2 separate regions of the Homo sapiens genome follow, and region 1 is linked to region 2. The links come from fine-mapping of genetic effects on gene expression. A gene starts in region 2. The other region holds a variant in brackets. All regions are shown on one strand. Distances are from middle to middle.

Region 1 (2,909 bases), 23 kb after region 2:
CAGGAGAATCACTTGAACCCAGGAGGCAGAGATTGCAGTGAGCCAAGATGGCGCCACTGCACTCCAGCCTGGGTGACAGAGAGAGACTCTGTCTCAAAAAAACAAAAACAAAAACAAAAAACAAACCAAAAAAAATTAAAATGAAAAGTTACATTAAAAAATTAAAATAAAAAAATAAAATGAAGTTAATAAAGTATCTGTTGCAGGGATTAAGGAAATCAGTATGTATAAATCACTTAGCCAGTCCCTGGCAAACAGTAAGCAATCAATACATGGTAGCTACTGTTATTACAATTTCTCAGCCAGATTTTCTCCAGGAGTGCTCAGTGATCTGGGCACAGGAGAAAGTGCAGAGACATCCAATTTCAGCTCTGATCCAACATTGAGCTTCTATTGCATGGGTTTTGCAAAGGATAAAGATGTGAAGGAACTGCAGGGGAGCCAGTCGGTCAGCCACAGGGTCCAGGATGGGCAGGAAAGACAGGGAGGCCAGGACGCAGCTGGTGACTGGGAAAAGAGGGAGCAGTCAAAGGGGCTAGATATCTATATTGTATCGAAAGTGGTGTAATGGGAGTGGGGTAACGGGAGCCAGGAGTGGAACGTTGGCGTTTATGACTACAGATAAGATTCTGGATTATAAGATTCAGGGCATGGTTGGGAGGGAGTGTTACTGAGGTGGAATGGGGGACAACCCTGAAGAAACAGTTAAGAACCAACAGGCACAAGAGGGTGGTTGTCCCCAGGCTGACAGAAGAACTTGAATGGACAGGAAAACTGAGGCCATTTCCAGTTGATAAAGGAGAGTGGGCAGTGGAGCTGGAATCTCAAAGAGCAGGGCTGGCAGGGAAGCAGTATCTCTGGTGCAGAGCCAGGTTTCCGTTGGGGCAGAAGGCAGAGGAAAAGTGCGGATAGAGGCAGTGGTGGTGAGAAGACCTAGGGACCAGGCCACCCAAGACAGAACAATGAGAGATAAGGGCCCAAGAGAATATTGTCAAAATACAGATGTGATCACATATAAAACCCTGCAAAGGCTTCATGTGGCTCTCAGGGTAAAGGTGAAATTCCCTAACAGGTCTACAAAGCCCTAGGTGGTCTGGCCTCCACCTACCTCTCCAGCTTCATCCCATAATACTCTCAGTCACACTCACTCTGCTCTAGCCCTACCAGGCTTCCTCCAGGCCTCTTACCTGACATATTTTCTCATGTCACATGAGCTTTTCCAATGGTCTTTCTTCTGTGCAGAATGCTCTTCCAACCCCCTTTACCTAGTTAACTCCTATTCATCCTCTGAATTGCTCCTCAGGGAAACCTTCCCTGATTCTCCAAACT[A/G]TAACAGATTCCATATGCCAATCTCTCATAGCTCAGCACTTTATTTGCAGCACTTACTAAAAGTTATATTTATCTATAATCTGGCTATATGATTATTTGATGACTATCTTTCTCTTTCACTATACTGTTAGCTCTTTAAGAGTAAGCATTGTAAGTGATGGATACCTTAAATACCCTACTTGATTGTTACCCATTCTATGCTTGTGTAACAATGTATCACATGTTCCCCATAAATATGTAAACTATTGTGTATCAGTTTTTAAAAAGAGTAAGCACGGTAGCTCACGCCTGTAATCCCAGCACTTTGGGAGGCCGAGGTAGGCGGATTGCCTGAGTTCAGGAGTTCAAGAACAGCCTGAGCAACACGGTGAAACCCCATCTGTAATAAAATACAAAAAGTTAGCTGGGCGTGGCGGCGTGCGCCTGTAGTCCCAGCTACTCCGGAGGCTGAGGCAGGAGAATTGGTTGAACCTGGGAGGCAGAGGTTGCAGTGAGCCGAGATCGTGCCACTACACTCCACCTTGGGCAACAGAGCGAGACTCCATCTCAAAAAAAAAAAAAAAAAAAAAAAAAGAGTAAGGATCTTATCTGTTTTTGCTCATCACTGCATACCCAATGCCTAGAACAGGGTCTGGCACATAGTAGTTGCTCAATAAATGAATATTTGTTAAATGAATAAGTGATCCATAGAAGCCTAGAGGCTGGGACAGGTTGCCTTTCACTCAGTACCTGAGGACAACAAGGACAAGCAGGGAAGGACAGACCTAACTTCAAATATCCTCCAACTAGTCATAAATTGCTGATGCCAAAGCTGGTTGAGTCTGAGCACTGTTTGATTTCTTAGGTGGTGTCAAAAGCTGCCTTGAGGTTTGGGAAAGGACAGAGAAGGCCCTATTCTTGACAGGAACCATGGCCCAGTGTTATGGTTCTTATGGTTCTCTCACAGGTTCTTGCCCTCAAAACCTCATTTCCTGCAGGTTGGGGTTCACCTGCTCTCCTCCCAGGTAAGCATGTTGCCTCACCTACTACAGGTTTACACATGCTCCCTCACCCTCCCCACAGGGGAGGAGGATCCTCATCCTCCCCACAGGGTCCTCATCCCTCCCCAGTACACACATCCCCTCACCTCTCACAGAAGGTGTGCAGGCAAGGAAGAACCTTGGGGCACTGGTACCGATCCAGGCAGATGCTGCATACCAGGAACTGCTTGTCCATTGGCTGGACCTCTGGGCCAGGGCTGTCCTCCCTCTTTGCCATGGCGCCCACAGATGGCTCCCGCCACTCACACCAGCCTCTGTATGGAGAGATGGTCAGCACCAGGGAGTCCAGAACTTCTTCTCCCCACCCAATCCCCGCCACTCAAATCCCCTGCAGAGAACTTGCCCCCACCTCTTCCCTGCTAGGGGCAAGACAGGGCAGTGACTGGAAGGATCAGGGTGATGTGACCTCTGAGCCTGGTGTTCTGTTTAAGAGCACAGACGTAGGATTAGATTGGGTTTCAAACCTGGCTCAGTCTCTCACCAGCTATGTGAGCTTGGACAATCCATGTAACTTCTCTGAGCCTCAGTCTCTTAATTTGT
Region 2 (2,909 bases):
GGAGGGAAAACAAAGCCGACAGTCAGGACTTCCCCAACCACACAGCACCTTTGGCAAGGTAGGAAAAGGCACCCCTTCCTCTGAGCAGACACAGCCTGGGTCACATGGGACTTGGTGAGCACAGCAGACTGGATTTCATGCTCCACATGCTCTTCTAGCCAGGTGCCATTGTGTTGGGAACAACTTGCCTTGCCCTATGAAGAGGACTTGATACAGGGTCATGGAAGGCAAGGGAAGCAATTGCCAGAGAAAAAAAGGATGGCCAGCAGTGTGAGGTACAGCAGAGCGGTGTAGAACTAAGACTAGGACTGAAGAACAGCCACTGGATGGTGCACCTGCCAGGCCCACACGCATGCACACTCCCTTAGCCCAAGCTTTTACAGGAAAGGAGGGCACATGGGAAAGAAATCTGCTACCTATTGCTATGGGCTCCATGCCAAGGCCATTTGGGGGAAGGGTCCCCAGTGTCGATTCCAGCCCTTTCCAGCCTGGCCCTGATTTTGGCCCAGCAGTACCTTGATCAGAAAGACACTGTTGTGACCTTGACGGAATGCAGCATCCACAGGGCTGGGGAAATTCTTCCATCTCTCTGAGATTAACTCCCGGTCCCATTTGTGACTCTTCCACACAAACTCCCCTGAAAAAACCCACACTCACTGAGGGGCCCAGTGAGAAACCTTTGACCTACTGAGATAGCTTGAGAGAAGCTGTCAGTGATACCATCAGATAATTCCTAAGACCTCCCACAGACAGGGACACCCTTTGTGAAGGAGAGTAAGTCTAAGGTCCTAAACGCCCTAACCTCAGTCCCTCCTACCTTTAAAAAACAGCATGGTTCCATTGTCATCCAGGGTGGTAGCATCAAAGCTCCAGCCATCTGAGCAGCGTTCTGGGGTGGAGGTAGGGAGATGGCAAAGTAAAAAAAAAAAAAAAAAAAAAAAAAAAAAAAAAAAACCAGAAGGTGATAAAATGCAGAGACACAACCAGACAGATAAGACAGACTTAGGGAGTCAGGGCCTCACCAGTCACGTCTGGGTCTGGCTTGGTCTCGCCTTCAGCAACATTCCCATGGGCACTAGTCCTAGGGAGAACAAAATAGATATCTTGATCCATTGGGACCGATCCCTTTCCCATAGCCCCTGACCCCAAATTTGACCGAGGCCTAAAAACTGGCCCTACCTTACCCTAGCCCAGAACTCAATCCTTCGCTTCTAGTCCCAGCTTTACTCACGGAGGAAGAGGGGTGGCAATGGCCAGAGACCAGCATAGGCTCCACAACCCCAGTGCAACGGGTGCTCCCAGTACCCTAGCCATGCTGAGCTGCAGAGGCCACAGGACAGCTCTGGGTGACCAGTTGAACTCCCTATATAGAGTTGGCAGCAGCACCACCCCCACCTCCAACTCTACTGGGAATGTGCTGTCTCCCAGGACTAAGCCAATATTGGCTGATTACATCACTGCAAATAAGGTCAGGGTCTGGACAGAAATCTGAATCCAAGACTCCTTTTTCCCGGCAGCTGCCCCCCAACCCCCTTCAGCAATTTTCAAGCAGTAACTGGGCTACACTGCTGACGTCCAGCTGTGACTCTCACACTGGCAATGGGTCCAGGCATCCATAAGTCAGGGAAGTGAGTAGACTGAGGATCACCTTTTGTGATTGAGTTTATCTCCACAATGGGGGAGGTGAGAAAAGGAGGGAACTAATATTGCTGTGTACTGTGTCAAGCCCTGCTCTAAGGCAGCTAGAGACAGCAATACTTACTACTTTTAGTAACCACACACACAGATAAACTTACTTAGAAATACTCAGAGAACAGCTTTTTCCAAGCTTCATCAGGGGCCTTTCTGGGGCATGCCCAAGCCTCTTCAGCTTTACCCTTGGGCTAGTGAGTCTGGGGACAATAATGTCTCACTGTTGTCAAATGTCCAAGCCCCATGCCCAGCCTCTCGCCTTCCCTGACTGGCAAAGGGCTTTGCAAAAAGTGCCTGGAAGTGAAGGGTTGACAGTAATGAGGCAGAAACAGGAGGTGTCTCTCTTCCAGAGAGCACCACCACTACTAGTAATTAGTCTTTCTTGGTAGTTTCCACCTTGGGGGAAAAAGCTTTATTTAACCAACCCAGAACAAATAGAACTGTAACTGGAATTTCACAATATTTCTAGCTGACTCCTGCTTAAATGCTACCTTCTCAATGAAGCCTTTCTTGACCACCTTATCTAGCCATTTCAGACCCTTGCTTGTTTTATTTTACTTACTAAAACTTGAAATTCTTTCATCTGTCTACTTATCTGGTGATGGTTGTTGTTGCTTTGCTTTGTTTTGCCTGTCTTGTTTACCATTATATATCCCTGACTCCTAAAATAGTGCCTGGCATATAAGAGTTGTTCCAGAAATATTTGTTGAATGAAAAAAATGCAAAAATGCATTTCAAGTACTGAGTAGTGTTGCTAGTGTTGCAGCCAAATTTCTGACAATTTCCCCCCCTCTAGGGTAGGAGAATATTAGGAATTGGGGGTAGGTTATGGTAGTAGGCATAATGAGATCTAGGAGTCACAGACGCCCTTTATCTGACAGTCCTGTTTCTCTCTCCAGTGTCTCGGCCCCACATCCATCTCTTCCTGGGATCTCACCTGCTATCCTCAGTACTTCCTGGGCCCACTCCCAAAGCTGCCCCATTTCTGTGTGAGATTTGCCTAGTGAGTCAGAAAAGAATTATGGGCAGACTCAGCTATGGGCCAGGATGAAGTTCCAGGACCCCTGCTCCCTAGCCAAGGCTGAAAGGGCCCTGATCCCTCACAGATGGCTCCAGACCCCTGACAGTCCCATATATAATCTTACCAAAAGTCTCAGATCCCTTTTCTACTCTGCGAAGTTTCCTTCCAACAGGAAAACACACATTCCGGAACCTCT

Evidence for each region.
Region 1: its variant is fine-mapped to the expression of HPX in whole blood (TOPMed, PIP 0.97).

What each region holds. Positions count from the first base shown.
Region 1 is chr11:6,463,110-6,466,018 of GRCh38, forward strand. TRIM3 (tripartite motif containing 3) reads right to left here. Exons shown (of 12, transcript NM_033278.4): 2 at 2,456-2,623. The coding sequence starts at 2,586. Among named protein-coding and RNA genes, the nearest start is that of TRIM3, 9.4 kb to the right of the region's middle. The variant A/G (reference allele first, on the strand shown) is at 1,330.
Region 2 is chr11:6,439,650-6,442,558 of GRCh38, forward strand. It overlaps HPX (hemopexin), which reads right to left and starts at 1,338. Exons shown (of 10, transcript NM_000613.3): 1 at 1,232-1,338; 2 at 1,023-1,081; 3 at 818-889; 4 at 516-637. The coding sequence starts at 1,314.